Linked DNA regions of Homo sapiens: all the other regions are reported to be linked to region 1. The links are microRNA targets in miRTarBase. Many come from high-throughput screens and were not tested one by one. Region 1 holds a microRNA gene; each other region holds the end of a gene's coding sequence.
The links. The annotated mature microRNA hsa-miR-26a-1-3p reads CCUAUUCUUGGUUACUUGCACG and lies in region 1 at 2,167-2,188, shown strand. An mRNA with a match to its seed (bases 2 to 7 or 8) in the 3' UTR can be bound and repressed. Matches are read on the target gene's strand: a 7mer-m8 pairs with bases 2 to 8, a 7mer-A1 pairs with bases 2 to 7 and ends in A, and an 8mer does both.

Region 2: miRTarBase lists USP42 as a target of hsa-miR-26a-1-3p. Seed matches in the 3' UTR shown: 7mer-A1 at 3,062-3,068.
Region 3: miRTarBase lists ACSL4 as a target of hsa-miR-26a-1-3p. Seed matches in the 3' UTR shown: 8mer at 3,895-3,902.
Region 4: the mRNA of SOWAHC is a reported target of hsa-miR-26a-1-3p. Seed matches in the 3' UTR shown: 7mer-A1 at 3,791-3,797.
Region 5: the mRNA of GABRG2 is a reported target of hsa-miR-26a-1-3p. Seed matches in the 3' UTR shown: 8mer at 2,865-2,872.
Region 6: miRTarBase lists SYT17 as a target of hsa-miR-26a-1-3p. Seed matches in the 3' UTR shown: 8mer at 3,638-3,645.

The regions. Positions count from the first base shown.
Region 1 is chr3:37,967,286-37,972,714 of GRCh38, forward strand. MIR26A1 (microRNA 26a-1) reads left to right here and starts at 2,119; the gene lies at 2,119-2,195. CTDSPL (CTD small phosphatase like) reads left to right here. Exons shown (of 8, transcript NM_001008392.2): 5 at 541-597; 6 at 4,122-4,214. RefSeq lists enhancers at 1,789-2,352, 2,353-2,914.
Region 2 is chr7:6,158,435-6,163,863 of GRCh38, reverse strand. USP42 (ubiquitin specific peptidase 42) reads right to left here. Exons shown (of 18, transcript NM_032172.3): 17 at 4,371-4,414; 18 at 2,300-3,309. The coding sequence ends at 4,407. It overlaps CYTH3 (cytohesin 3), which reads left to right. Exons shown (of 13, transcript NM_004227.4): 13 at 1-2,085. Among named protein-coding and RNA genes, the nearest start is that of USP42, 56 kb to the right of the region's middle.
Region 3 is chrX:109,639,513-109,644,941 of GRCh38, forward strand. It overlaps ACSL4 (acyl-CoA synthetase long chain family member 4), which reads right to left. Exons shown (of 16, transcript NM_001318510.2): 16 at 1,823-4,674. The coding sequence ends at 4,517. Among named protein-coding and RNA genes, the nearest start is that of KCNE5, 17 kb to the left of the region's middle.
Region 4 is chr2:109,615,660-109,621,088 of GRCh38, reverse strand. SOWAHC (sosondowah ankyrin repeat domain family member C) reads right to left here. Exons shown (of 1, transcript NM_023016.4): 1 at 2,099-5,429. The coding sequence ends at 5,022. It also overlaps a transcript of RANBP2 not described here. Among named protein-coding and RNA genes, the nearest start is that of SOWAHC, 4.0 kb to the right of the region's middle.
Region 5 is chr5:162,152,515-162,157,943 of GRCh38, reverse strand. It overlaps GABRG2 (gamma-aminobutyric acid type A receptor subunit gamma2), which reads right to left. Exons shown (of 10, transcript NM_198904.4): 10 at 2,418-4,851. The coding sequence ends at 4,576. Among named protein-coding and RNA genes, the nearest start is that of GABRG2, 87 kb to the right of the region's middle.
Region 6 is chr16:19,266,406-19,271,834 of GRCh38, reverse strand. SYT17 (synaptotagmin 17) reads right to left here. Exons shown (of 8, transcript NM_016524.4): 8 at 3,503-4,955. The coding sequence ends at 4,759. Among named protein-coding and RNA genes, the nearest start is that of CLEC19A, 17 kb to the left of the region's middle.

The DNA of each region.
Region 1 (5,429 bases):
AGCCTGCCCAAGGGTGTGGCCTGCGGCCTCTGACTTTACCCCCACATGGCCTTGTTACTGTTTTGAGTCCGTGTGGCCATCTTCTCCTGCTGAGCAGCCCATCGCAGGGCAGCCGCCAGTTGTGGGTCCAAGTACAAATAGTTTTCCCTCAAGCAGCACTGTCCTCGGAGCCCATTACATGCTCAGCTCCTCCCCCTGGTGGCTAGCAGTGATTCCCCATCACCCCAGCAAGACTCTGGGCAAGAGCTGGAGTTTTCAGGAGCCCCATCCTCTAGCCAGGCAGTGCCACACTTTTTGGTTGAGGCCAGGCAGGTGATATTGGACCAAGATGCTGAAAATGTAATGACATTCACAGTGGAAAATAATGTGCTTTCCTGCTTGTGCTTATTTTAAGGAACCAAGGCATGCTTCATCATCCTCCTCCTGAACTGTTTTTTCCAATAACCAAAACATTGGTCTAGGCAGGCTTTTTTCTTGCTAAAATTTCCAGAGTTTTTTTGTTCCTTCAGACATATTAATTATAGTCTCTTTTTTCTCTAGCCTATTAGTAATGCTGATTTTATTGTTCCGGTTGAAATCGATGGAACTATACATCAGGTAAGAAACTGAAGCTAAATTTGAGTTTCAATTAAGATTTTTTAGTACTTACATTTCCTATGAACTTTATTTCTAAATTCTCATTTCAGTAATAACTTTATTACGGAATCAAAAGGAAGCATACTGTAATAAATACAATGTTTTTCTTTTTTTCACTCCAATGAATTTATTTTATACTGAGATTATAAGGAAACTATAGTCGTAAATATTAGATGCGGTTGCAAGTTCAAATAGTTCTTTGATTTGAATTTCAGAAGTTTCCGTATCCCCCACTGGCCTAGCTTGATGGTCTAATTAACTTCCTTGTGTAATTGCTTTCGGCTACTCTCCTAGCAGGCAACAGGAAAATGCCACAAGTCACCCACTTATGGTGGACTCTCGGGAAAAAGTGTCCATTTTCAATGCCAGCTGCTCCAGACTGATCTTATCATTCCTGCATCGTTTTCTCCAGAGAATCTTTAGCAAATACCCACCCCAAAAGAAAAAGGGGGAAGGGTGTGAGTTTTCGGATCCGCAGGCTGCTATGAATAAAGATGCCGTAGTCAGTTGGCATGCGTCTTCGTTGCTTCTGATTTTTTTTCCTTATCTGCATAAAGCTCTTCCGGAAATAACTTCATTTATGAACAAATTGGGAATGTTGTAGGAAAACTAGCTTTAGAGGTTGAAGCTGGGGGGCTTTTGTCAGATTTTCCACAGGGATGATCTAACCATCTTCCTTGTCAAGTCCAAGGTCTTAAAGGGAGCGTATCTGGCCTGATATCCCAGGAAGGAGACTTTCCTGGTACTTGAGCCACAACGGGATGTCTTTTCTTAGCAATGTCAGTAGTCTTTGGTTCTTGAGTGCAAGGTGTCAGAACTGGAGAAAGCTTGGGAATCAGCTGGTCCAGCTGCCTCATTGTCTAGATGGAGAAACTGAGGCTCCGCCAGGGAAGGGGTTGGTTAAAGGTCATACGATGGGAAGAATTAAAATGAAAATTCCAGTCTCCTGCCTCCTGGCCCAGGGCTCTTTTCCTGATACGCAAGTCCCTTCCCTCCCATGTCCTTGCTTTCTTGCTTATTCTCCAGGACATCCTGCCAGGAAACAGTCCCGGGGAGAGGCAGCTTTTTTCCTAGTGTTTCCACACTTCATGCTTTTAAAAGCCATCACAGAGCCAAAACGGCAGGCACTTGGGCATTTAACATTTGCAAAAGCATCAACTGAATTAACTCAGCATCTGAGAAGCAGTTAAGGCTTCTGCATTTATCATCTTGGCTTGTGTTACATAGTGCTCATGATGAGACAAAGGAGAGGCTGCCCAATGGCATAGCAAGAATTAGGAGAGAAATTAATCCTTTGTACCACGTGACTGTAAGCATGACTGGCCTGCCCACTGCTGACCCATTCTTGCAGGAGCTCCCCCACCCTCCATCCTGGCTGTGCTGTGATATCACAAGGTCCCAGGGCTGGGGTCAGAAATTCTCTCCCGAGGGAATGAAGCCACAGGAGCCAAGAGCAGGAGGACCAAGGCCCTGGCGAAGGCCGTGGCCTCGTTCAAGTAATCCAGGATAGGCTGTGCAGGTCCCAATGGGCCTATTCTTGGTTACTTGCACGGGGACGCGGGCCTGGACGCCGGCATCCGGGCTCAGGACCCCCCTCTCTGCCAGAGGCACCAACACCAGAGTTCACAAATCAGTCTCCTGCCCTTTGCATGTAGCAAAGCTTGCTTTCCAAGCAGGACTCCCAGGGTGACTGAGGACTACAGGCCACACCCGTTTGCTGGCAACGAGGAGTCTTGTGGGCAAAGTGGGAGTCTGCAGCTGTTGCAGCCACAGGCCCTGCCCTCAGCCCTACCCCAGCCTCCCAGCTCCTCAGAGCTGTGTTGGCACCCGTGCTACGACATCCTGTTCCTCCAGCCCCTCGCTCCACCCTCAGCCACAAATCCATGTCCACCTCCTTCTTTCAGTCACCCATGAATTTCCCACTGAGTCCTGGCCCTCCTGAGCTCCTGCTTCTGGCACCTTGAAAATGACTTGGTTCTGTATAGAATTCCTCGGCCAGCAGCACACCCAGCATGTGGTGCAGAGCCCTCATCTCCCCTCTGCTGCTCCTCCTGCCATTCTCACCTGCTCCATCTGCCATTCAAGGCCCTAATGTGCCCACTGTGACCTGCCTCTCACTTCATCTTCAGCCACTTCCTCTCCCAGACCCTGCTGCTCCGGCTTCTCTCACTACCTCTGATGGCTGGGCACACAGCCTGGCTACTCTCTAGCTTCTCAAGTATTCTCAGGCCTCGGGTCTCACCCTCTACTGTTTCCTCTGCCTGAAAGCCCACTTCTTCTCAACCTTATTGGCCTGGTGAACTCCTTCAAGGTCCAGGCCAAATGTTATCTTCTATGATCCCCTCCCCTTGTGAGGGGAGTTAATTGTCCTTAATTTATCCCTCTACTACAACTTTCATTATGCCATGTTTATTTTTATATGTTTTTGCCTATGTCTGTTCTAGAGTATGAGCTCTTCAAGGGCAAGGCCTGTGTTTTATTCATCTTTGCAACTACATCAGGCTGAGCTCAGAGCTGAGGCTCAGTAAACATGCTGAATTGAATTTTAAAGAGTTTGATTTATTTTAGTGAAGTGGCTAATTTCAAACGGAATTTATTCAAGTTTGAATTAGTTCTTCCCTCCTCCCACTTCCTCTGTCTTCTCTCACCAGCTTTGCCTTCTCTCCCATCTCCCTTGTTTCCCCAGATTCATTCAGGCTCCCTAATCAAGAACCTATGTATGGTCTGAAGCCTGGCCTCCTCACTGCTACCCCCTGGCCTGGCCTGGTCAAAAGGGTGCACAGAGCCCAGCCATTCTAGAAAAGGCTACTCTTTGCACCCCTCTGCTCAGAGACCCCTCCTGATGGATTATGTCTGGGGTCCAGGAATAGCGATGGTTTCACATCCCCTGAAACATACCAAGCCCACCCTTTATGGTGTCATAGACAGCTTCCCAAGCTGACAAGGAAGCCCCTTCTTGCAGCTTTGCTGGGCCTGTGCTTCAACCCCAGACCTTCCTAGTAAGGGGGATGTCCATCCAGAACAGAAGGTGGCAGCCGGAGCAATCCCAGACCTGCTGGGCAATATGCTGGGCCTGGACCTCTGAAAGGACAACACCCAGACCGTGGCCCGTGCCCACACAGGTCCTGACCCTCAGCAGGTGCCAAGAAACACACGTGAAATGAATGAGTCATTACACACAAACATGGTACAACCCTTCCATTTGCTGGCCCTGAATATCCCCAAGACCCTCACACCATGGTCAGCTTCTCTTTTTCCCTTAGGAGGGGCGTCTGCAGTGAACTCAGACCTGGAGCCCTGTCTGAGGAGTGCCACGTCTGACTCCATAGCCCCTCATACAGTCTAGGCCTCTGCCTGCTATGCATAGACCTGGGGGAGGGAGGCAGGAACCTTTGTAGCAATTCTTCCTACAGTGGGCATTTGGGCCCCAGGCCATCCCCAGCAACTGCCACATCTGACCAGCCTGCTGTCTCCTGCCATTGCAGGTGTATGTGCTGAAGCGGCCACATGTGGACGAGTTCCTCCAGAGGATGGGGCAGCTTTTTGAATGTGTGCTCTTTACTGCCAGCTTGGCCAAGGTGAGTCCTGCTTCCCAGCCCCACACTCCCAGCCTGGTACTCCCAGCCCCTCCACCCCTACCCCCAATCTGTCAAGCAGCCCTTTGTTTTGGTGGGGGAAGCCATTTCTATGGTGACAGGTTCCCACCCCAGATGGGATGGATGCAGGCCATGTGCATGGTGCCAGTCTGAAAGCCTTCTGGGTTACCATGGTGACAGGGAGCACTTAGAACAAATGCTCCATGAAGTTGCTGTGTGCAGCCACCTGAAGCTGGGTGTCCACAGTCCAGAGAATCACAAACAGGTCCAGTGTAATGGACAAAGGATGGTGTACCCCTCAACCATTGACTGTCAGCCAACTGCTAGAGGCCCCTGTGTCCTTGGGTTTTGCTTTCACAGATTTGAGGGAGAAGCAAGTGAGAGATAAGTGTTGGACACTCACCCACATGCTTGGGCTGAATGAGAGTTCCAACTGCCCTAATGAGCTGTATGATCTGAGGCAAGTTACTTCACTTCTCATGTCAGTTTCTTCTATAAATTGGGGATAATTCCAGCTACCTTGTGGCTAGATCACATGAAATAACATATGTAAAGGACTTAGCACAGTGTCTGGCTCACATACAGCAAGTATTCATTGAGCACTTGCTGTGTTCCACATACTGTGCTGGGCATTGTCACATGATAAGCACTCCTGATGTTCATTATTTTGTGTTACAATTATTTGTTGATGATGATAGGCCGGGCGCGGTTGCTCATGCCTGTAATCCCAACACTTTGGGAGGCCAAGGAGGGCGTATCACCTGAGGTCAGGAGTTCAAGACCAACCTGGCCAACATGGTGAAATCCCGTCTCAAAATACAAAAATTAACTGGGCATGGTGGCGGGCATCTGTAATCCCAGCTACTCGGGAGGCTGAGGCACGAGAATTGCTTGAACCCAGAAGGCAGAGGTTGCAGTGAGCCAAGATCATGCCACTGCACTCCACCCTGGGCGACAGTGACTCCGTCTCAAAAATATATATACATATATTTATTGGTGATGATAAAATCATTCAGACATATCTTGATCCTAAAGCTTGATATGAATCTGACCTAAAATCTACACTGGCTCTGATCAAATAGAATGGTTTCTTTGTCCTCTCCACTGTTTAAGGAAACTAGCAGGTTCCCAAGCCTCCCAGTATGGTTTAGTCTCCCCCTTCACAGGTGTGGCAGGGTGCCTGTGCTGTGTGGGGCA
Region 2 (5,429 bases), not on the chromosome of region 1:
ACCTGTGGCAAAATGAACGCTTATTTTACAGACTTTCTAATTTGACCAGATTTCTTAATGAATAGACACAGAATTAACTAAAAACAGTCTCACCCCATGTAGTGCGCCGTGTCCTGAGAGAGGTGCCCTCCCTACGAGGAGGGAAGAACAGGCCCTGGGGTGCAGAGGCCCGGCACGTAGAGAACCCAGATAGACGCCGGTGGTGGAACTGGTCAAACTCCACGCCCGCCTGGGAGGTTGTCAGGTTGCTGTGGATGTAAGGATAGGAGGTGCCCAGTGCTCCGCTCAAGGAAGGCTGGATCTGGGCCCCACCTACAGAGAGGGCTCAGGGCTGGACCGGGGGCATTGTGTGCTTGGGCCGACCCGGGCCGGTGGCAGACGCTGTTCTCTGTCGGGAGATTTGCGTCCCCAGGACCCTGTTACACAGTGGGCTGTTGGGTTGGTGGCTGGCTTTTCCTCTATGGACTTCCTCTTCCTGCCCCACCTGCATAGGCACACACACCTTGAATCTGCACCCTCTGGAGGGCATCTGTACTCCTGTGCAAAATGCCCAGTCCAGAGACAAAACCTCAGACTTTGTGCACCTAGGTTTCCTTCTCAGCAGCGGAGACTGTTCTTTGAGTTGCCTTGAAGTGGAGGCCGAGCGGCTGCGGGCCCTTCGCCTCCCTGCGGCTGACCTTGATGTAGCTTTAAGTCACACTAGACTGCAGAGGGGTCCGAGGCCAGAAACCCCTGTCCTGCATCAGACTTTCATTCCCACGTTCTTAGGCTTTGTTACTGATACCTCAAATCGGAAGTTTTAGTTCTGAGAAAGGCAAGTCAGCGTTCTTGAAATGCCTGACTGGTAGATATGCAACTCTGGCCTCCAGTCTTCCATGAAAATAAATGCTGCCTGGACCCCCACCCAGACCACACACTGACGGCCGGCTCCGGCGGTGCCCACCCCTCAGGCTGGCCCGGCACCCAAGACTGGCCACAGCCAGCTCTGTCAGCATGTTGTGCTCGGACAAGCTGTTTCCTTCTTCTGACCAACCCAGGTGTGACCTGGGGATGCAGAGCTTTCTGTTTTGGGTGTTGGGAGAAGCAGCAGGAAGGAGTCGCCAGATGATCAAGCTCCCCCTTTGCTGTCATCTGTGAATGAGCTTCGCCAGGTGGTGGGCACCTGGGAGCCATGCAGAGGCTGTGGTGCTGAGTTAGACTCCAGGTACTTTGTGGTCAAAGGAAATCGCCTAGCTCCAGGCTGTGTTAGGACAGTATTAGCATGAAGGCTGTGCGACCATCATGCCTGCTGATCCTTGAGGCAGGCCTGGTCCAGAAAACTCTGGGTCAGTGACTGCGCAGGGCCAGCCGCTACCAGGACGGCCCTGAAACAGGACACATCTGTTTTTTGTCCCTCACCCTGGGCAGGCCGCGTCACAATCACAGTCCTCCTCCTCCCCACCCTGACGTCTGAGCGCAGGGCTTGAATTGTTAGTCCCAACTCTGGCCAAAGATACTTTTTTCCAGAGACAGAGGCCAGGAGGCAGTGAGGGGAGCCCCGCGGGGAGGCGGCGGCGACTGCCACAGCCCTTCCAGCCTGTCTTGCTGGCCGCCCTGGTTCATATTTGAGTTTAATTGTACTGACCCTGGACCCAGATAAGCAGCAACTTTGTGTCTTTGGGGTCACAGAACATTTTGGGGCAGTTTAATGTGGTACCAAACTGAAAATAGGAGCTATTTATAGATGGAGCAGCACTTAGTGCTTCATAGAAAGCAATGCCTATTTTTAAAGTTACAAACGCAGATATCTACATAGATATGCTTTGCTGAGAAGTTAGGTCTGTGGTAGACCAGAAACCACAAATTGACTTTTTTTCTTAGAAAATATTTCTATTTGCGGTAAATATAGTAATATGTAAATAATGTACATCTGTTGATTTCTGGAGTGTCTGTTATTCAATGATGTATATACTCCCACAGCTCGCATGAAGGAACAGCCTCTATTGATACTTGGTTGTAAAGTGAAGTAAGATTGGAGGGTGGATGGCTGTCAGAGCTCTTGCAGATACTGTGTTCACTAAATAAAAATCACATGTATTGTTAAAACAAGCCTAAGACTTGGTTCTTTAAAACAGATATTGTTGGGTCCAGCAAACACCCCTCCAATTTTCCTTTGCCCGTCCGAGGTGGGATGGCCTGGCCGAAGGTGCCGACTTCGGCAGGAGCACTTACTTGAAGGTTTTAAGAAAGTGAATTCAGATGATGACAGGAAGGAGTCTGGAAGCAAATGGGGAAAACAACAGTAAAAAGACGCCAAGTGTGTGATTTGCTGCCATTTATATACTATAGAAATTTTACATGCTGTATATTTACAGTGGGGCAAGTGCTTTTTTAATCTTTAGAAAAACAAAGATCAAACTTTAAACATCTCTGAACAACACAAACTGTATAAACCATACAGATTATTCAGATACAAACTGTATTAAATACAGTTTTCCCCACTCCATCTCCTGATGCAGGACCAGTGAATTATAAGTGTATCACAGTTTGATAGCATATCCATATTAAAAATAAAATCACAGTATGATTGTGTCTGTAACTAGAAACTCGAAGGGACCAAGCAGACAACGGAGACTCCAGTATCAGTGAAGACAAGAGACGCTGTATCAAAAAGTGTTGTGTAATAGAAACATACTGTCGGCTTTACAAATCATGTCTGGGTTATACATTCATAATGTAAATACTCATCATAACTGGGAAATTGATTGATTGGAACAGTTCCACAAAGTTCAAAAACAGAACTTGTCTATAAAATACATCTTCAAATCTTGAATACAACTAAAATAAGCAAATTAGTTTCTAGTATCAGACATTACAGAAAACAGACTGCTCTCCAAAGTCTAGGTGAGAGCTTGTGAGTTTTTAAATAAGTCTTTAAATTAAATATACACACTGTCAGTTTGTACTTTTGACAATTCCATGGTCTCCCGGTTGGTCTTGCACCAGATGTCTAACTTGGAGGAACATTACATGAAATACAAGTAATCGACCTGAGTCTGTAATTAAGCAGCATTTGAGATGTTCTATTCCAGGGCATTATTTCAATGGGATTTATATACACGGTATTTTACAATGGTCAGCAGTGGTAGAAAGTGTTCGTCCATTCGGAATAAGGGTAATTAAGAAAAGGTAAAAACTAAAAAAAAAGTTCTCCATGGTAAAATCTGTACAGTATTTACTAAAGAAGCACCACGCAGATTGGAACAGAGTTATTGTCTATCTTTATAATTTAAGCTGGGCTGGGGATGGCTTCTGTTGAACGCGTTGAATCTGAAAGACAAGAGGCGCAGGGTTAGTGAGTTGGAGGCAGGCGGCGGCGTGTAGGGCTTATTCCCGGACGCCCTGCCAGCTGCTCCCGAAGGCTGGGGAAGCTCTTCCTTGAGGAGATCACTCTGCCTTCTCTGCCTTCCTGAGTGGAAATGAGGGAACTGGCGGTGCGGGCAGCTCAGCCAGGGAGGCGCCATCTGCTGGGCCCGGCCACCACCCGCCCCAGATGCCTCCTCCACCTCCATCCTCACAGCCCCTCACTCAGGAAGTTTAGCTCCTTAATTAGGGTTGGGCCTCTCCCTTGAGGACACATTGATAAAGCCTGTTAATTAACGGCCAATTAATCCACAGACTCTTCACTTGGCAATTCATTTTAAATTCCTCTTGCTGACTACATGTGACAGACACATTTGGACAAAGTTTCCTTTCAAGGGAAAAATGGTTCACTGTCCCCTCTAGCTCCACAAGGGTCAGGTATAAAACCAGTGACTCTCCCAGGACCGCTGTGTGAAGTGATCCAACAAAGCCCCACAGCTCCGAGGTCCTGATCTGCCGCCCGGCCCTGGGCCACCTTCCTATGGTTTTGTACGGTGGCTGCTGGGGGGGTGCTGGCTCCAGCTCAGTGCCACCTCGGGGCGCAGACAGCAGCACAGGGGACGGGACGGACGAGGGAGCAAGGCTCCGCTCTCCTGAGTGAGGTGCCTGTGCTGGGGACCGGGCCTCTCCCTTCCCAGATGTTTATCAAAGGCCCGTGGGCTCTGCCGCTGTGAGCCGGGTTGGCTTTTCCCAAGTGAGGCACAAGGGAACAGGGCGACTCTGCCTGCGTGAAGGATGCGGGTCTTCCCCAGCCAGTAATGCAAACGTGATGAGGTGGAGGGTCTAGGTCTGTCCCCAAGCGCGTGGCCTGGGTCTGGGCTGGCTGGGAACCTGCCGGGGCCTCTCCATGGCTCTGCCAACTCCTATGAGCCCAGCCCCCAGGCAGAGCCGCAGAATTAAAACTCCTCTGCCTGCGTCCCCTCAGCGCCACCACAAACAATGAGGAAACAGACAGGAAAACAGCTTACCATAACTAGTGAATTTTTTGTTTTGAGGCTGAGTTTTCAATCACCTAGAAAGCAAAGGTCAGGAAAGAGATTTTAATGATGGTTGCAAAATCGCCAGGGCCTCTGCTGTGTGTGTGCGTTAAGTGGCTATGGTCAGAGTCACTGCGGTTCCCTGTGAGCGCCTGAGGCCACTCCCCAGTGAGGTGAGCAGGGATGTCCCAGCGCTCAGCGGCTGCTCCCAGGGTTTTACTGATGTCAAAGGGTTTACGTGATGACTGAGGGCTCCATCCAACCCACACGCAGCCTGATGTTAGAACAGATATCAGGCCCAAGAACTGAACTGGGCGGAACAGAGCCAGAGGAGGAGTTTGAAAGAGAAAGACAAGGGGCCGAAGTCCAGGGTAGAGGGGGACCCGCAGGACCACAGGACGCTGGGTGAGGCGGGGCCGGGCAGCGGCCTTCTCAGAAGGACAAGAAAGGCTCCTCAGTCTGCTCGCAGCAGAAGCGCCAGCTGCAAACCCTGTCATCGGTGCAGTGGGACGGGGACGGAAACACAGGGCCACCACACAGACAACGCCTGACCACAGCACCCGAGACACGAGGCAAACAAGATCACGTTCAACCTCCCTCCCGCTGGACCAGCTGCCTCGGGGGCCATCACTGTCTCCCAGTAGCCCCAGCTGGAAGCCCATGATCCTGGGAGCCTGCACCACACTCAGAATGAGCCCATCCACTGCATCCTCGGATCCTCGGGTACCAAGCAGCCCTCACGAATCTCCTTCCCCGATTCGCTGAAATGGGAACGCAAAACCAATTCTGAAATGTCCAGAACGTCTACAAGGCCCGCAGGCAACCCGTCCTCACCGGCAGTGCTGGTGCCTGTCCTCATCTCCGGCTGTTTCCCCAGCACTCCATGGGCAAATGTCCCCCATGGGGCTCACCCCGCAACCCCCAGCTCTCTCTCACACACTCTAAGGACCGTTTACCCCTCAATCAACAATGCATGCTGGCTCTGGGCTGCTGGGAGGGACAGGCCTTCCCCAGAACACACAGCTCCACCTAACCCACAACTCAGCCGAG
Region 3 (5,429 bases), not on the chromosome of region 1:
TTTTTTAAAGATCTCTTAAATTTTTGTTATTTTATTTTTATTTTTTTTTAGAGCTGGGGTCCCACTACGTTAACCAGGCTTGTCTCAAACTCTTGGCCTCAAGCGATCCTCCCATCTTGGCCTTCCAAAGTACTGGGATTGTAGGTGTGAGCCACCGGGCCTGGCCAACAATAACCACATTTTAAATCATCCACAGCCACATGTGGCTGGCAGCTACTACAGTGGATAGTGCAGATACTGAATATTTTCAACTTCACAGAAAGTTCTATTGAACAGCACTATTTTACAGGGTAATTAAATCAATTTAGTGAGTAAGAGCCAACATTTAAATAAATGAAATAGAATAGAAAACCAGTGTGCATCTCATTAGTATTGTTTTTTCACAAAATATTTTCATAAAATATGTGTGCACAGCATTGTGGATCACAATAAAAAGAAGTTTGGAAGCACTCCTTTACATTATGTGTGCAAAACCCTGATTAAAATTTAAAAAAACATTAAGGGTCAGGCACTGTGGCTCACATCTGTAATCCCAGCGCTTTGGGTGGCTGAGGTGGGAGGATTGCTTGATGCCAGGAGTTCAAGACCAGCCTGGGCAACATAGCAAGACCCCATCTCTAAAAAAAAAAAAATAATTAGCTGGGCACGCTGGAGCGTGCTTGTAGTCCCAGCTACTTGGGCGGCTAAAGTGAGAAAGAGGATCGCTTGAGCCCAGGAGTTCAAGGCTGCAGTGAGCCATGATGGAGCCACTGTACTCCAGCCTGGGTGACAGAGTGAGACTCTATCTCAAGACAAAAATACATTAAAAAAAAAAAAAAAAAAGAGTCACAGACTCCTTATACCTAGTAGAATCCTCAACTTCTTGTGATCCATAGCCTCATAGCCCTATAGGAAACTCAGAACCTAGGGCATCATTTAAGAAAATAGAGCTTGGAACAGTAATATCACAATACTAAAGCTAGACATGATGGACCATAAGGACTATCATGTTCCCTATTTCTTTTGTCATTTGTCTTTCCCTTTTTGCAAAAGGCATCATTTTTGAATTTTTGTTTGTTTGTTTGTTTGTTTTTTAATGGGAAGAAGAAACTAAGGCTAAGGCTAAGGTTATGAGATTGGCCCATGGTTACAAAGCTAGTGTCAATAAGCCCAGGTCTCCTGACCTCTAGATCTAGAACTTTTTTCACAAAATCTTCAGGGGCAGTCAGTTCTTTAAGGCCCTGAGTATGCTAGTCAATACTTTAAACAACCTGACTGATGAATAGTGTCTAGGTACAATAATAATTATGATAATAATAGCTAACATAAGCTATTGTTCTAAACACTTTACATTTTAACTCTCACAACAATCCTATTAGGCAGATCCTATTATCCATCAACCCAATTTTTCCAGATGAAGAAATGCAGCTCCAAAATGTTAATTAATTTGCTGAAGGTTACACAACTACAGTGGCAAAGCCAGGAAATAGAGCTCTTAATGCCATTTTATACACACCCTCATATAACTCAAATTAATTTCTCTCTAAAATATTAATTAGCCTAAAAGTAGCAGTTATAATTTGGTAGCGCCCACTGATAATCCATGTTTTGTCCCAAAGTATCAGTGTTACAAAGGGGTTTTACTCTATTGACTGGACCAAAGTAACAGTTTGGGATTCAAATACTCTGAACTAATGGATGGGACTATACAAGCCGGTTTAACTGCTTAATGCAATTCCATAAACCTGGAGATGAGTACTTTAAAAATATGTGTTTAAAAGTTTGGTTAATAATCTTCAAACTTGGAGATTTTATCTCAATGCATAATGAAGTACAAATTGGCTTGATAACATGGGTGGATTTATTTCTTAAGATTTGAGTGCAAACTTAAAAACAAGAACAAACAAAGCTTTTCATCAAGAATAAACACAAAATCTAAACAATTCTGCAATCATGCATTTTAACAGAAAGTACAAATATGAATACATTATAATTTGTAACTGCATTTAAAAATTAAAATATTTCTCTCCAAATCCAAAACACCACACAATCTTTATCTGTTCTCATCTTGTTACCTTAGAAACATTTGTCATATGCTATCAGGAAAATATAGGCAAGACTTACTAATCAGTTATTCATGATCAAAGAAACATGATTCTCCTTAACTGTGACTTTTTGAATCATTTATCTGTATTTCTGAAATATCACACAATTATACCTCTACTCTAGAGAAAAAAAGAATAAATACAAATATCAAGGAGGCAGGAACATTCATGGAATTAAAGCAAAAGTCACAAGTGTTTGACTTAGAAATGTACATATTGTAGTAAATTTTTAAAGTACAACTTTAGTTGATGGCTGATGTGTATGTAATAACTGTGAGCAATTTAAACAGGTATAAAAATGTGAGATCAAAATCTTTAGGCTTAAATACTTGAAAAGTCACTATGGATATGGAAAGATTTGTTTACATAAACATGTATATTTTTAGATGGAAAATCAAGGGGTAGTGGCATCTCCCTGGTCCCTTAACAATATTTGGATTTTTGCAAAGAATTAGCAGCACCCAACCTTAAGTGTTAATTATGTGTTTCTAAAGGACCTATAACAGATCAGTTGGCAGTGTTCTAGCTTTTGGGAGTTGGGGGCAGATTGGGGGTGCAAATATCTGAGATAAGATAGTACATGCACTCACACATTTAAAATCACCATTCTAAATGGGAAAAAAAATCACATATTGGAAAAGTCTAAGAAACTCATTCTTAAGGGATAAACAGCAGGGCAGGAATAAAAGCTGAACAGTAGTCTACTTGATAATAATGGTATTTCACTCTTCAAAGGCAAGTTGGGAAGAATGAGAATACTCACATACACATAACTTCAGGGAAAACTTGCCTAAAATTTTACCTTGCAAAACGCTGAACAGAAATCTTTACAAAAACCTTCATTCTTGTTTATAATACTTGATTTTTCCCTTATTACCACCATATACATAACATTTAAGTATTTTCTTCATAAATATTTTAGAGCAAAAAGAATGTATTTTGTTGCAATGGTGGCCCACATCTGTACAAAACAACATAAGCAACACACACACACACATATATATATGCATATATATAAAAAATGATTAAGAAAAAGTGCAAAGAATAACAGTATTAAGATTTTTTGCATTTTACAGTAACTATGGTTCAAGTGTGAATATTTATCAGGGATATATAATCCCAGGTTTTAATTAAAGATTCAAAAAGAAACCACACTCCCAAGTTACTGCACAAACATCAGTCCCTTATCAAGTAACTCTGCCCTTCTCCCAAATCTAGTATTTCCAGTTTCTAAGCTCTTCCCAAACAGGAAAAAATGATAACAGTGTTTTCTTCCCTTTAACTTCCCAAAACTCATCCAAGTTAATCACCTGTAAGTTCAAGCAAGATATTGGGGAAGTCATTCATTATAACCCGCTTTGCTAAAATTAAAGCAAAATGAAAGGCTTTCTGAAATGCAAACTACTGATCAAGAATAAAATCAGCAACAGCAAACAGACCTTAAATTACAAATGTAATTTAATACATGTACATTTTAAAATCAATCCCTGTTATCAAAGATAAATTCAGAGTTTAAATCTCTTTCCCAGGTTCAGTGCTGTGCAAGGGTTCTAATTCCAAATACTTATGATTTTATCACCTTTTCTAAGAGAAAATGTTTGCCTGTTAACTTTTTACCTTCCTTGCTCTTGGTCTCAGCTTTTCAGTTTGAATAAACACAGAAAGGCAATTTTCAGCATTTCAAAAAATGTACTTTCCTCTTAGTCATTCAAATAATTACAGTTATTTTTAGATCTCAAAGTTTCAAAAAAAGCAGCTCAATTTCCCTTTAAATATATTACTAGATATTTTTTGGTGTTGTATATGTTGTTCTATTCTTATTTTAGGCACTGTAATTATTCACAACATTACAATGACTCTATATCTAACCTATGCAACAATTATAATCTTAATACCTTCTAAGGTATTATTTGATTTTGTGTATTATATTACTATTGAATTTTTCCTTCAAGATAAATGGTTGGAAGAGAATTTTAAAGCCCTGCAGCACTTTTGCTTTGAGTAGTGTTAATACATATTTTCTGTCATGCTTAATATTTAAACTTCTGAAATAGGAAGACAAGAGGCATTGGAAGCTGCAAATTTCCTCAAACTACATTCTACTCCAACTCCAATTTATTTTGTTCAACATTAAATATTTTTCTTTACAAAAACAAGTATATCTTAGGCTAATTTTTAAAAACAGAATTTCTGCTCTATAATAACACAGCTAAAGGGAAATAACTTTTCAATTTCAGCTGCACTAGAACTATGCAAAACTAAGTTAAAGTAAACCGGACAACAATTTTAATAACTTTTGGTTTTGTTTTCTTTTTACTCTATCTTTAGAATGATATACCTTACATTCTAACAGTTCAACAAAGGCTTAAAATTCTAGAGGTTGAAAACCACCAGGCTACCTCCTGCACAACTGTCAATAAGACAACAACATTTTATTTGCCCCCATACATTCGTTCAATGTCTTTGAGGTAATGGTTCCTCAGCTCCTTCCTTTTCAGTTTGAAAGCATCAGTTACCAAACCAGTTTCAGGGGTCCATGGCTCTGGGCTTAATCGAACCTTGATTGGAATTTCAAATCGCTCCAATTTCACTGAAATTAGAAGTGAAAGATGGGAGAAAAGGAGAGGGGGGGAAAGAGACGAGAAAGGAGTGGGGACGGGGAAAGAAGGGGAAGGAGAAGCAATTAATAAAATATGAGTTTTTCAGGATTTACCTAGATGATTCGGGTGTTGAATCACCAATCACCACAAACTTATTTAATGGTATACTAGATAGTTTATTAATGCTACCTCTACCTTACAATTTCATTTTATATTTCTCAAAGTATACCTAAGTTGTTTCAGTTGGATAGTTTTAGTCTATGTGGTTATTAAAATATACATACATATACACATTATTTATACTCACACACACACACATACACACACATCTTCCTCTTCAGAGACTTTATATTTGCCTGAGATGGTCTTTCTCAATAAAGTTGTGTGTCACTTCCATACTTTATCCATATGTCTGCTCAAATACCACCACCCCGGAGAGGACATCCCTGACCACTCATAACAAAAGAGAAGGGGGAGGAGCCAAGATGGCCAAATACGAACAGCTCTGGTCTACAGCTCCCAGCCTGAGCGACACAGAAGACGGGTGATTTCTGCATTTCCATCTGAGGTACCAGGTTCATCTCACTAGGGAGTGCCAGACAGTGGGCGCAGGTCAGTGGGTGTGCGCACCATGCGCGAGCCGAAGCAGGGCGAGGCATTGCCTCACTCGGGAAGCACAAGGGGTCAGGGAGTTCCCTTTCCTAGTCAAAGAAACGGGTCACCTGGAAAATCGGGTCACTCCCAC
Region 4 (5,429 bases), not on the chromosome of region 1:
AGTTAGGCTGCTTTTGGCCAAAGCTTTGGTCAGAATGAATATGGTTTAGAGCAGTGTTTCTTGAGACAGAACTGGTCACAAGTGTGCTTTAAAATGATCTATTTTAAATTTTCAGGTGCTCATGCAACCTCTGACACATTTCCAAAGGCTGAATGTTCTATCTCACAAGGCAGTCCATGGTATGTTTAAAATGATTATTAGAAAGTTCTCCATGTTAAACTAAACTTCATTTCCCTATTCATTTGCTCTTTGGGATTTCACAGAATAAGTAGTCATTTGTATACCTGACAGTACTTAGACTATTTAAGGCCAATTAGAATAATTTCTCCTACAGGTCTTGGACTTGAGTCAGCTTGTAAGGAAACTTTCTTTCTTTCTATTTTTTTTTTGAGACAGAGTCGCTGTGATGCCCAGGCTGGAGTGCAGTGGCACAATCTCAGCTCACTGCAACCTCCGCCTCCCGGGTTCAAGTGATTCTCCTGCCTTAGCCTCCCAAGTAGCTGGGATTACAGGCATGCACCACCATGCTCAGCTAATTTGTGTATTTTTTGTAGAGACTGGGTTTCACCATGTTGGCCAGGCTGGTCTTGAACTCCTGACCTCAGGCGATGCTCCTGCCTCGGCCTCCCAAAGTGCTGGGATTACATGCGTGAGCCACCACGCCCAGCAAAATTTTCTTATAATCAAATTTACTCTTGAAAATCTCTTAAATCGCTCACGAAGTACAGTTCTAATAAAGCTGATTTTATCTTCAGGATTGGAATAACTTGCTGTTCTTTTGGCTGAGCTGCAGATGAACTGATAGGCTGGTATTTAAGAGCCATGTTATATAAAAAAACTATTCACATAGCATGAATGCATGTAATTGAATTATCCATATTATGTAACATTATAAAATATTTAATGTTTTCCATTAAAAGACCCTTACTGAGTACCTTCAACATGCCAGGCACTGTGCAAGGGTAGAACATTTGTCACACATTCCTTACCAATGCATCGATGTGGAAAAATAGGCTATTAGTTAACAGAATAGGAAAGCTACTTACTGAGATGAAACTGACATTTAAAGAGAAGATTGAGAAAAAAAGTATAGTGTTCTTCATGGAAAAAGCAGGTAGTTATGTGAACCACATGACTTCTGTATCTTGAGAAACAAGTTTCTGTAGAGTCATCTTCCAACCCTCTAATATTCAGTGATTTATGAAGACTTGGGTGATCATTGAAGGAATACTGGTTTACAGCAAATTCCAAGTATTTAATCCTGGAATTAATCATGTAAGAAACTCCAAATAATGCTATTTACTTAGCAAAATAAAAATAATTTTTACTAGGAAAATTTCAAAAATATCTTTAAGTGAACTGGTTAATAAATCCTTTTAAGACATGTACTTCTAAGGAAAGAAGTTATTCTAGAAAAACAAACTACTTATCTAGTCTTTCAGTGATCCTGAAAAATATTTTATGGGTTATCATAAAACAAGAATAACCCCAGCAGCCATCACAGTGGGATCTCCCGGATAGAGCAATAGTGGGCGATTACACCAAAGGAGTACCACATCCCTTTGCCATTCAACAGAGTTGAATTTTGCTAAAAATACAGATCACAGGAAGCCTTGATGAGGTAATTAACTCTCAATGCTTCACAGAGGCTGAAAAATGAAAAACGGTATTCCTACACCTGTCTTGAAGTCAGCCCTGGGTAGGGCAGGTTTATGGCAGATGGTGTGTGCAAAACCCATACAGCTTTTTTTTAGGTAGTGGTGGAGGTATTACCTTCTCTCCAAGTTGATTCCTCCATCACTGGTGCCAAACTACAGCAGTTTTGCTAAAAATGTGGCAATTCAATGTGCAGAAAAGATAACGTTGTGGGAAAGCCCTGACTCTTATAATCTTACTAACAGCTTTTTACTGTGTGACCCTGAACAACCATTAACCTCTATTTTCTTATCTGTAAGTCAACAATATATGGCCCATAATCTTAAGGGATAGGAAAAGGGTCAAATAAACTGAAACTTCAAAAAGCATTTTGTGAACTGTAAAACACAGTATATGTAAAAAGTCTAAAGGACGACAGAAACTTAGACAATTCAGAGAAAAATTCTACTGTGAACATTTTATTTTCACAAAACAAACTTTACAGATTTTACAATCTCCCAAATTTCACTTATTTAAAAATAGGAGAGACAAGGCAACCTAGACTCCAAGATTGCAGGCGTGAAAAAACTAGTACCAGATATTCAAGTTATATATGCAAACTGCATTTTATATACCATGAAAGTGAAATGTGACAAACACTCACTAGTTTCAAGTGTACCTTATAAGAAACACATGGACATACTTGGGTTTTTTAACCACATAGTCTCATATCAATAAACATCTAAGTATCTGACATGTATTTTTCCATTAAAGGTAGGCACAACTCTATGAATATCAAATTATATCAATCATTTGCTTTTTATAATCTTGACTGGAAACTGAAAAATAAGAGGAATGTAAAGTTAAGTAGCCGAAAATGCTACTTACTGCACAAAAGCACATCATGAAAAGGAATGCTAGAAGTAGTTCTCCTCAGGAATGGGTTTTTGAAAATTTAAAATATTATTTTATCAGAAAAGTTAAAGCCTTCAGTGGGAAAACCATGGTAAATGACATATTGACTCAATCTCTAAAGCCCTGGCAAATTATAGATTTTGTGCAATTAGTGACCAACATATACATTTAAGAGATAATACTGACTGTTGACCAGAACCTTCTGATGGTTCTGAAGCATCTGCTCTTTAGAGTTACTTCAGCTTTACATGTCTATGAAATTTAAGATTCCTCAATGGGATGTTATAGCTTATTCTGCACTAGATACAAGTAATATGTATAGATTTAGAACAAATGACTACTTTTCACCTTCCAGGAGCCTGTTTTTATTTATACAAAATTAGATTGGTTTTTCACCCACATGTATGCATAAGTGCTTCTCAAATTTACACCGTTCATATCTGAAATCCCACAATAAATGCAAATAAATGGATACTAGTTTATATATTTCATATTTTCATTCATCTTTTTTTTTTTTTTTTTTGAGACAGAGTCTCCGTTGCCCAGGCTGGAGTGCAGTGTCGTGATCTTGGCTCAACTGCAACCTCCACCTCTCAGGTTTAAGTGATTCTCATGCCTCAGCCTCCTAAGTAGCTGGGACTACAGGCACGCACCACCACGCTCGGCTAATTTTTGTATTTTTAGTAGAGACAGGTTTTCACCATGTTGGCCAGGCTGGTTTCAAACTCCTGGCCTCAAGTGATCCACCTGCCTCGGCCTCCCAAAGTGCTGGGATTACAGGCATGAGCCACCATGCCTGGCCTTTCATCCATCTTTAAACAAATTCAATGACCATCTAGAGACAGATGTGACCAAAGTGTTACAAATTTCTATGCATTTTCTATGAATTGCTCTGTGCAGTTCACACATGGGTTCATTCACCCCGCAGGCTGTGAACTTCCTTATCCTGTAGGCTGCAGGTACTTAGGTTTCAGCAACTACGCGACCCAAAAGACTAAAGGAGGACTTGTTTAAATTAGTCCCTCTCAAAAATTGTTTCCAATCTTATAACAAACAGATTTAATATGCTTGTGGGTTAAATTTTAAAGTAGTTATGAAGCCATTTACTCTAATATAAATGAATGAAATGTAATTAAGAACCATACTTAAACGAGTACTTAATTTTAATGAATGGTATTTTTCATTTATATACAAAGGAATAGCCAGCAGCATTTAAATATAGAAATAGTCCCATCTCTTCTCTATTCCCTTTTATAAAGTGCCATTTTAATTGGGTAGATTTACTACCCAGATTTTCAGTAACTACAGGATAGGTATCTAATTGTCAAGAAAAGCTTGGAAAATTAAGTTTAGCATTTTAAACATTTGTAAAACATTGCTACAAGTCATAGAGACTACCAATGTATTAAAATAAAAAGTGTACCTTACATAAGAATCATTAAGTTGGTTTAATAATTACTTCACAGAAACATGGGCTCATGAATACTTAGGCCAATTTGTGCTAATTATTTAAACCAGAAACAGTTTCTGTAGGTAATTCAGCTCTAAGCACCATTAAATAGGGTTATGCCAAATAGAACAATGGTTAAATAATCCTCAGAATAAACACCCCAGCAAATTCAAACTTTTAGAATAGTAACAAAAGTTAGTGAGAATCCGAAAGAGAGGCAACATTTTATTGAAAACTATCATAGGCTGCTAAGTGTTCTCTTTAAATAAAATTTTGTGTAGTTATTAATGTACCTTAACACTGGTGTACCTTAATAGTGGTGTTAGAGATAGGTGGAAACCATACTACAGAAGTGAATGTTGCCTGTTTCTTTTGTTCAGTGATTAAAACTGAAATTGCTTTTAAAAAAATAATTTAACTGCTACTTACAATACACATAAAATACCAAGAAGATTCCCATTTTATTCACATTATTCTCTAATTAGTATTTTTGCATTTCAACTTTGATCTGACCTTCAGTAGTACCTTAAAATGCAAATGCAATTAGTAAAAACGGGGCAGCCTGTCGTTTTCACACTTAGAAATACAATGTAGTTTCATTACAGTTTGCATTTTTTTGTTACTCTTGAAAGAGTAACCCCTTATAAAATCAGATACATAAAAACTGCATTATTCCTTACTTTGCAGGCATCCAGGAATGGTTAAAGCAAAGGAACTCTCATTCATTAATTCATTCATTCTGTTCCCCCAATTTAGATACATTTCTAGTCTCCAGAAACGGACTCCAGGGCAGGGAAGTGGAGGGCAGAGAAGAGGTACAGGTCAAGGTATGATGAATCTCTGAAAAAGACATCCACTTTTCCCAGAAGGCTAGCCTGAAGAGAACTCCGCCCCATCCATTCCGATCCCTCAAGTAAGAATGCATAATTTAGCTTGTCCTTCTGGTCTCACTTCCTTACAACACCTAGTATTCAATTTATTAAGACAAATAAACCTTTGCATTTTCTAAAAGAAGCAATTTTTACCCAAATACATTGGACTTTGGTCTCAATGTGAAGGGCGAGTGGCCTTTAACAGGTCGTTCCTCCCCCACTCCCTCCTCCCCCCTGCCCTCCAGCGGCTGCTCTGGGTCCCTGAAAGAGGGTGTGGTGTGGACGATCTGGGTTCTGAATCGGATTTTGTTGAGTCTGGGTTTTATACGTCCACTAGAGCTGCCCGAGGCTTTGCGCCCTGGATCCTTGGCTTTGCCTCCGACCCACCCCTCAGCCGAGTGGTGATGGTGGTGATGGTCCCCTCCATCTTCTAGGGCGTGTGAGAGTTTGTAGGTGATGAGATGCGAGGGAAGCACCTTTGAAAGCCTCCAGCGCCCGCCGCCGCTACCCGCGGCGCTTTCCCCGTCACCCTCGTCCAGGGCTCCCACCAGGTTCTT
Region 5 (5,429 bases), not on the chromosome of region 1:
ACATCAGGCCATAGCAAATAGCAGAGAAGTGATCGAATAAAAATCTGCTGGAGAAAAAGGGGCCAAATTCCCTTGTTTACGTAAGAAACTGAATATCATCAAGATAGGAATATTTGGAAATCCCCAGATGTTAAATGAAATTTCTATCCCCGGTCCAGTGACTTTTTTTTTTATGAGAAAAGAGAGTCCTCACAAATGATGATCAATATTTTTAAGCAAAGTAGATATGGTTCTTGTACCCTGTATTTTCTGAAACTTTATATCCTTACTGAGGAAAATTACTAGCATCCAGTAATTCTTTGGTATTAACTAAGTTTCTCCTTATAATAAAGTCTGAGATACACACCAATATTATCTCCATTTTTCAGGTGAGAAAACTAAGGCAGACAAAAGTTGACAGGGCTGATATTTGAACCTAGTTAATCTGGAGCAAGAGCCTCTGCTTTTCCAATTAGTTACACAAACCATAATTAGAGGAAACTATTTCTTTATTATCCAAAATGTGGCAAAAGAAAGTTACAACTGGATTTTGCAATTGGCTTATAATCTGTAACCTTAGAAAGAATCATAATAGTTAGGTCATTCCCCACCACTTTGCTTAAATAGTAGAAAGAATGAGCCTGCAGATCCTAGCCATGGAAACTTTTTGGTTGTCTACTGCCACATATCCCAAAGGACAAAGGCTAACTCTAGGTCTGGAGTTGTTTAGATGTTTCTTTGAAACAGCATTCTGAAAGCAGTATGGGTAATATTAAATATCAATTGGTCATTTCACATGAGAAGGAATAAAATAAATACAAAACCCATTGACTTCCCTCTGTTACTAGGTATTCTCAAATTCCTGTCTCATTGCAATAAAATGAGTCAAAGTGAGGCTTAGATCAAAGAAGGAAAGCATCCTGCAGTTTGGCAGATCCTAAAATATTAACAGAAAGATAAAGTATTCCAGAATTTTACTTCTAAATTCTGAAATACTGTGAGACACAGTGGAAAGAGCAATGCTTAGATGACCCCCTGATCTGTCATTAACTAGCTGTGTGACCTTTGGCAGTTCACTGAGCACTAGAAAACATAGCCGAGCTCTTGGTCTACGTCATTCCCCCATATTCTACACCTTTGACAAAGATTCATAGTGACAAAGCATAGAGATAGCAATTTTTGACATAATCCCTGAAGACCACATCATTTTGTTAACTTAATTTGACCTTCATTGCAGACAAAAATTTTTGCTACTAGTCAGAATAATATTGAGACTTAATGCAAGGAATGAAGGCCATATAAAGATATGAATTCAGCTAAAGTTCAGGGCATTGAGTTAGACAGCAGACAACATCTAAGTGAAAACTATATTTTTATAGGTTTGGAAGGTGAGAAATAGATGATTAAATTAGATGCAGGAAGATATGAGGGGCCAAGAGAATGGGGCCAAGGATGGTTAGGGCAGCTGTGTTGTGAAGATAATATTATATTCCTGGGAGAATTTCAAAAGAGTTCAAGAAAACATGACATTGTCTCTGGAGTAGGGCTAATCAACTTTGTATGTTTGTAAATTTTGAGGGTACAAATAACAGTTCTTTGGCCTTAAAAATAACTAATGTAATGTGTAAGTTTTTTTCCAATGAGACAGAAATTTCCCACATATAGTTTAAAAGACTTGCAATGCAAATATTTCCTAAAAATAAAAATAGAGTGATGTAGAGTCACTTAAAGGCTTATATGCCTAATGCTGGATTCTATTAGGGAAGCTAGTTTGATAGGATGAAGGGAGCATGACAGCAGTGCATGGAAGGCATCGGAAGTGAGGGAGAGAGCTTTTGACCATTTGTTGAGTGTCACTACATAGGTTAGCATTGGTATATCTAATTTATAGCTGCTAAAATGGAGACTTCTAGCTGGGCATGGTGGCATGCATCTGTAGTTCCAGCTATTCAGGAGGCTGAGGCAGGAGGAATGCTTTAGCTCAGAAGTTTGAGGCTTCAGTGAGCTATGACTGTGCCACTATACTTCAGACTGAGTGACAGAGGGACACCCCATCTCTAAACAAATAAACAAATACATAAATTATTTTTAATGGAGGATTCTAAAGTCTGAATTGACAATTGTCTAACAACTGGTAAATAGTAAAGCTGGGATCCCAACTTTGTCTGGCACTGGAATTAATGTTAACCACACCGAAATTCTTGAGGTAGAGAAGACTTGAATTTTTACTTACTTTATTACATGTCTGCCTTTCTTCTTCACTCTACAACCCACATGCCTCTCTTAATTTTTTTGAGGTGAAGAGTACCGCCATGCAAAACACAGTCACACAGCTCACAGATAAAGCTCACTGAGAGGGGATTTGGGGAAATGAGGCAGGAAAGAGAGGTCACAATCTCTAAGACAAACAGTCCCACCAGACTACTGAGATGCCACCATGGATTAGAATGCAGCATTTTTATTGTAAAAGTCCACATGTTAGGCAATTCCCTTTGTGAAAAGGTTTCCAAATACATAGACAGGGAGCAGCTTATAATAAGTATTAGATTATATATAATATATATTCATATTGCCAATACTATGCACACATTGGAAAGCTAGCTTTTTGTAGTGTCCCCATTACAGAACACATTTCAAGTTGACAATAATGTTTCTCACCATTGAAACTTGCCAACAACTCTCCCAAAGAGTCAACATTTAATATATTGACAATTCAAAACAAGAAAATAATTCGTTCTATTTACATTTGTTTGAGGTTATATACTGGAGCACTGATATATTAAAGGTTTGTAAAACTGGCAGCTAAATGTGTTTCAAGATTCATCCAGATGACTTGATGATGACTTTACATGGTTTTATACTGACAAAGCCACTCTCTCTTCTTTTCTATTCTTTTTAGGTTATCTGTAAAGTTATACTAGCTATGATTTAATTATGACAGAGTAATAATTTCCATAAAAATAATTAACAAAGGGTGCTATTTTAGAAAAATAAGGATTCAGGATGAGTACATGAAGATAGAGCTCAACTCATCATGTTTTAAGTCTGGAGAAATTGCTTTGTTTAACTACAATGTAATCTAATGAGGCCACAGTCATTGGCTCAACCTCTATGTGAGTCATTCATTTTTTTTTTTCAGTTTTTAAAAGCTAATCTTCAATACTTTTTCGCACAGAATGCTACATTCTGAACACTAGTCAGGTATGAATTTTGCTTATTCCTGTTATAAGTTCACAAACAAAATTGTGGATGGGCAAGGACTGACTCATCCCCAAACCTGGAAAAATAATACACAAACTCTAATTATGCCCTAGTAGAGTCATGTCTATACACAAACATAGGACATAAATATTGTTTTAAAAGGAGTATGGACTTTGCCTAAAATAATTTTTTGAAGATGAACATAAATAGCTAAAGTTCTTTGGATCCTACTGGTTATTTTTACAAAATCAAATATCACTTGACAACACCTATGTGAGAAGATGAGTCACTGGTTTCAGGCCAGCACAGAGATTTGCCAGAAGCATGTGAGGGCAATTCACTTCAAACCATATTTATTGAGCACCAACTATATGCCAGGCACTATGCAAGGTGCTACAGACCCAAAGAGGAAATGACAAGGATTCTGCCCACAAGGCACTCACAATCACTAGAAGCAGATCTTGAGATGGAGAATAAGTTCTGTTATGATCTATCATCCTAAAAGGAAGAAAAAAATAGCGGCAAGCACATACAATTACTTTATACTCTAGTTATGAAATTGGGCATATTTAGAGGTGGCAAATGTTGATTATCCAGTCTATATTTTACTTAAAGTGTTGTAATATGTCATACAAGGAAAAAATAAGCTGTTCGAATCTTCATGCATGAGGGAGAAGGCAATGAAAATTCCTCCCTCCATTTCCAAACCCAAATCCTTATAATTACATTCAGGAATCTTTTATAGCCCAAGGACACAAAATAAAAGACAATAGGATGATAACTTCAGTCCATTTATTTTGGATCTAAAGAGATGCATGCACTAAACTTGAAGCATTCTAAGTTATTGAAATATTTACATCATTGTACATGAATGTGGAGGAAATTTTCTTCCTATCTTGAGATAAAGGTGTAATAGATTTCTGGACTAGGCTTTCATATTTAAAGTGAGTTATGATTTTTCTTAAATGAGGGAGGTATTCTATTGGGATCAAATTTATCACAACTTGACCCGGAGTGAACATAGGGTACAGTTTTGGACCTTTTCTATCTAATTGCATTATGAATCTAGTAAGGATACCACTACTGTAAATAGTCAGGGCTTTCACTGTTTTATTTGCTGTAGCTGAAAAATATCTTATTTGGTTTGAATGTTCTTGCTCTAATTTTACTTTGCCTTGCAGGTTTGAAACACAGCAAACATCGAAGTTCAAAGTACACTAACCAAAGGAGGGCTGGGCACAAACAATATGACATTATAAAATTTACCAGGTTTGGACATAGAAACAGATTCAGATCATTATCAACCACATAGAGGATTATTTAAGTGGACTTAGAACAGACATCTCTCCATGAGACTCAGTGAATAAGAACCATATCAGTAAAACCCATACCTCCTCACAGGTAGAGGTAGGAGACCCAATAGACCAGATTAAACAGGCAGAAGGCAGTGGGGAAGAAGATCCGAGCATAGGAGTCCATTTTGGCAATGCGGATATGTATCCTCCCATGTCTCCAAGCTCCTGTTCGACAATCTTCAAAACAGCAGAAAAAACTGGCACAGTCCTTGCCGTCCAGACACTCATAGCCGTACTCTTCATCTCTCTCTTGAAGGTGTGTAGCATTATTCATTTGAATGGTTGCTGATCTTGGGCGGATATCAATGGTAGGGGCCTGGGACGAGGGTAGGGAAGGAGAGGGATCAGTTAGTTGTTCTCGAGAGATCCTAGGCTGTTTTTCCACAATGTCACCAATGTGATGATGAATCTGAAAATGGGTACTCAGGAAATTGCTATGACATCATGATCTACAATGGTAAAATTGAACTTAGAAAGATAGCACATTTGCAGATTTCAAATTTTGAGCTTAAGCAGTGCAGCTGAAAATAATATCATCAAGCTAATAGCTATAGCAAGGAGATTGAACACCAAAAGAACTCAAAGTTAAATATTTAAATCAAATTACATGGAATCTTATTCTAGTAAGTATTAGATGTGACATTGGTTACATGAAGGCATTTGATGGTGCTGCATGTGAGTGGAACAGAGAAATAAAAATGCATCAATTCTGAAATCAAATATTGTGTCATGCTTAGTTATAGGCAAATAGAAAACCCATTACTCTGAGCAAATGTATTAAATGTTAATAGAAAATGTTAAAATATATATAAATACAGAATTTTCCTGATTGTATACCACAATGGTATGGCTTATGTTTTAAAGGACTATGATTCTTTTTCTAATATTCACCAT
Region 6 (5,429 bases), not on the chromosome of region 1:
TCAACACATCCCTCTCGTCTCCTGACGAGCTCTGTTCCTGGAGATGTGAAAGGCTCTGATCTGTCCACCACTGTTACCTCTGATCATCCAGCAAACACTGCCTGATGTGTGCTAGCACTCATCACCATCACGCAGTGTGCCAAGGGTTATGGTAAAACTTTGCAGGCAAAACAACAACAACAACAACAAAACAACAACACAACTAAACAAACAAACTCTCTGCAGGCATTTTCCCAGCTAATCAACCCTAAGGGGTAACAACTGTCACCCTATTTCCGGACATGGTGGTGTGTGCCTGTAGTTCCAGCTACTCGGGGAGCTGAGGCAGGAGGATTGATTGAGCCCAGGAGTTCGAGACCAGATTGGGTAACATAGTGAGATCCTGTCTCAAAATTTAAAAAAAAAGAATTGTCATCCTATTTTTAGATGACACAGCCCAGTGGAGTGTTTAGCTACACTGGCTCTGACTTAGTTTGCTAGGGCTGCCTTAATAAAGTGCCACAGACTGGGGCTTAAACAACAGAAATTCATTGTCTCACAGTTCTGGAGGCTGGAAGTCTGAGATTGAGGTGTCAACAGGGTTGGTTCCTTCTGAGGGTTATGAGAGATTTGTTCCAGTCCTCTCTCCTTGGCTTGTAGATGGCTTTCTTCTCCCTGTCTCTTCACATCTTCTTCCCTCTGTGTCTGTCTCTGCATTCAAATTTCCTCCTTTTTTCTTTCTATTTTTTGAGACGGAGTCTCACTCTGTTACCCAGGCTGTCACGATCTCAGCTCACTGCAACATTTGCCTCCTGGGTTCAAGTGATTCTCCTGCCTCAGCCTCCCAAATAGCTGGGATTACTAGCATGTGCCACCATGCCTGGATAATTTTTTGTATTTTTAGTAAAGTTGGGTTTCACCATGTTGGCCAGGCTGGTCTCGAACTCCTGACCTCAAGTGATCTTCCTGCCTTGGCCTCCCAAAATGCTGGGATTACAGGCATGAGCCATTGTGCCTGGCCAAATTTCCTCTTCTTATAAGGACTCCAGTCATATCAGATGAGGGCTCACCTCATGACCTCACTTCAACCTGATCACCTTTGTAAAGACCCTCTCTCCAAATAAGGCCACAGTCTCAGGTTAGGACTCCAGCAAATCACCAACCCATAACAGGGTAGGCAGCTGGGCCTGGGCTGGCTTTTTATCTCTATTGCAGTTACCTGACACTTAAACTTATTAAATCTTGACTTCCAGCTGGGCGCAGTGGCTCATGCCTGTAATTTCAGCACTTATGGGAGGCCGAGGCAGAAGGATCACTTGAGCCCAGCAATTCAAGGCCAGCCTGTACAATATAATGAGAGCTCATCGCTACAAAAAAATTAAGAAGTTAGCCAGGCCTATGATCCCAGCTACTTGGGGGGCTGAGGTGGGAGGATTGCTTGAGCCCAGTGCTGTGAGCCGTGATACCACCACTGCACTCCAACCTGGGAGACGGAGCAATTTTTTGCCTCAAAAAAAAAAAAAAAAAAAATCTTGGCCTCCCCATTTGTAAAAGGAGATTAACATCTCTTCTACACCCCTGAAGGTTGCTGCATGAGGCTTAAATGTGATGTTTGGCACCTCGTGTGGTGCTAGTCAGCCCTCTTGTTATTACTAATGAAGGTGTCTAATGCTGGGGATGCCCTGCCTCATATCCCTCAGTCCACCTGGCTCCCCTGTGGCTATAGGGAGCTGTGTTGTGCACATACACAGCTGACCTCATCAAGCACATGTGCCTCTTCCTCTGCCCAGAGATTTCTCTGGTGTTATGGGAGCTTATACAGACCACACTGGACAATTCTGAAGTGCCAAACATTTAATGCTTTCAGGGCAGCCCTCAAGCCATGAGGAGGGACAAGCGTCAGTAATTAAATACTCCAGCTTCTGCATAATGATAATTCTTTAGTGTTTTCTACAGGGGTCCTCAGTATGACTGAGCTCACAGTACTAATTCATGAAGACTTTTGCTTTTCTCCTTCCCCTTATTCTTCACTTATGCTTTCTGGGGTCGTCTGCACCCAAGTCCTCATGTCAAGGTCTGTTTTTGAGGCACCCTAAGACAACGAGGAAATTGAGGCTTAGAAGACTTACGTGGTTTGTGCCCCAGTACACAGTTAAGGAGTGGTGGTCCTGGGATTTGAACTATGGTTTCTTGGGCCCAAAGCCCTTGGGCCTCATCACCAATGACTCCACCTCTAGTTCTAAGTGCTTATTACGTACCTGTCTTCACTCATTTTGTTTGTTCTTTTATGCTTTTATCTTCTACTGTAAACCACAGTAATGAAGCCATTTCATAGAGAAGGAAAACACTTCTCCTTTTCTGAGAACTTAACTGATATGGTTTGGATGTTGTTTCCCCCTCCAGATCTCATGTTGAAATGTGATCTCCAATGTTGGAGGTGGGGCCTGGTGGAAGGTATTTGGGTAATGGGGGTGGATCCCTCATGAACGGCTTGGTGATGAGTGAGTTCTCACTCTATTAGAGCTGGTTGTTTAAATGAGCCTGGCACCTCCTTCTCTTCCTCTCTCACTTCCTCTCTTGCCATGTGACACGCCTGTTCACCCTTTGCCCTCTACCATGATTGTAAGCTTCCTGAGGCCTCAACAGAAGCCACACAGATGCCAGCACTGTGCTTCCTGTATAGCCTGCAGAACCATGAGCCAAATAAACCTCTTTATAAGTTACCCAGTTTCAGGTACTCCTTTACAGCAATGCAAAATGGATGAATACATCAACCTAACCCAGCCTCCCTGTTTCTCCCCCTTGACCTCCACAACACTTCCACTCCAGAATGGGAGACACCATGAGGTTCTCTCTGCAATACCCAATGTAGCCTGAGGGGTGAAGCCATTTTAGCCCATGGAGCAGTTACCTGGGTCATGCCCTTAGCAGGGCTTGGCCAACAAAATGCTAAATAAGCCGTGAATCTTGCCCTGAGGAAGTGAAAAGTTTTATATAGAAGAGCAACACTGGAATAATTGGCATTAGTACACTGCTCAAGTCAGACAGACATATTGCAAATACTCAACATTCTTGACCCCCAAAATCTATCAGTATAATAAATATCATTGTTTTGAAGCTGGGTGCAGTGGCTCATGCCTGTAATTCCAGCACTTTGGGAGGCTGAGGCTGAGGCAGGTGGATCACTTGAGGCCAGGAGTTCAATTCCAGCCTGGCCAACATGGTGAAACTCTGTCTCTACTAAAAATACAAAAATTAGCCAGGGGTGGTGGTGCACACCTGTAATCCCAGCCACTCGGGAGGCTGAGGCAGGAGAATTGCTTGAATGCAGGAGGCAGAGGTTGCAGTGAGCAGAGACTGCACCACTACCCTCCAGCCTGGACAACAGAGTGAGACTTTGTCTCAAAAAAAAAAAAATCATTGTTTTGACTTGTTCAGTATGGTTTGTTACACAGCAGTACTAGCTGCAATGCCCTCCCACCTTCTATGTCCTGTGTTCATGAAGAAAAAGATAACTCGAATGCATGGCACAAATAAATAATCTTTAATTTCAATAAATAGCTCCCCATCACACCAGACATTATGCTGTGGAAAAAGATACAGAAGCATCCAACAGAGAGAGAGGAAAGAGAGAGAGAGAAAGAGAGAGAGAGAGAGATCTATTCTAACTACACTAATTCCTTAGCACGAGAGACGTGACATTCGTTCACAGAAAAACACAGAAAGATCCTCAGAGTATGATTAAGGAAGAAGATCATCATGGATGGGGTGTGATAGCCATTTTAATCCATATATCAAGTCTTTGTATGTCTTTCGTGGGTCACAATCACCATGATTCGGTCAAAAAATGTTACTTTTGCTCTATCATATCCTATTTACTTTACACACACACACACACACACACACACACACACACACTACTTTTATCCAAAGTGGGATCTCTGACAGACAGGAGGACACTGGTTGGACTCTCACTGGACAGGAGAGGCAGAGAGAAGGCAGTGCTCAGGGCTGAGGTCCTGGCCCATCGCCATGCTCTCCAAGAGGACACATAGGCACACACGTGTTCGCCTGTGAGGGCACATGCACGAGGACATACACATACATACCCACAGGGCGTTCCCTGGGATGAGCTAACACAAGAACAATTCTGTTAAGCCAGGAAAGGCTTCTGACACTGGAATAGTTTTGGTTGCCATTTGGTTTCTCCAAATGGCCCATAATCTAGTTATCACATTTACTACGGAGAAGACAAAGATACTTACACCTTTGGAGAAAGGTATCAGGTTTGAAGAACCCCAGGGAACAGCAGCCTGTTCAGAAGTTACCCAGTAGGTGTGTGTTTCGGAAGTGGGGGGTGTTCAAGTCTCCCACACACTGGCCAAACTCTTGGTAAATTTAGTCTTGATGGAGCTTGGCACCCTTTGGGAGGTCCTTTCTCTGGCCTGAGGGTTGAAAGTGCATTTTGGGGCAGGAGTATTGACAAGAGCAGGCACTGCCAATAAGTCCCACGGCAGAGCCCACTGAGCTTGTGATCTATGGATGGGGCTTCCGGAAAGTTCCTAGGCCTCACTCAACTGAGGGCGGCCATTTTGTGATCAATAGTCAGCTTCCTCTCAGTTCTGAGAGGATTTGGGGTATCTGTGTGTCTGTGTGTGTGGACGTGTGTAGACATGTTGCGAGTGTGTATGCAGGTGTGGATGTAATAGTATGTGACACATTTTTTTCCGTCTTTTTTTTTTTTTTTTAAACAAATGAAAGCTGCCTTCCCTGCAGCCCTCAGGTCACCTCCAGGGAGGCAGGAGACACGCGGTCACACTCAGCTCGGGACCTCAGGCTATGCCACTGCTCCACGGCTGTGCGGTGCGTGTTGAGCATGCGCCTCCAGTGGTTGGTCTCAGAGGGGCCTGAAGAGTACTGGCCAATGACGATCCTCCCGATGAAGTCATTGCTGCTCTTCATGTTGTGGCCGAAAACTAGGGAGCCAGAGGGTTGAGGGCAGGAGGGAGGCAAGAGGAAGGAGGGGAACAGAACAGGAAGGCAGGGAGAAGACAAGAGGCCATTAGTCTACACATTTGTCAACTGCAAACATGGGGGTCATCGTTTAGGGCACGCTGTCTTTTTCCTTTTCTTGGTGAGAAGTCCAACTCCCTCATCTCATCCTCCTGTGAGTCTCTGCAACAGCTGCACCTGGTTTCCTGCCATCCCATGCCAGCCAGATTCTTACCTCTCAGCCTTGGCATTGGCTGTTCCTTCTGCCAGACAGCTGCACCGCCTGCAATATGCAGCCTTAAACGTATGTCCCACGGCATCACCACACTGCATATAGAGCTCTGTAAGTGGATAGTTCTAGTGGAACAGTGAGCCTGTCAATGTAGTCCAGTTGAGCGATTAAACCAGGGTTTCTCAATCATGGAACTGTTGACATTATGGGCGGGATAATCCTTTGC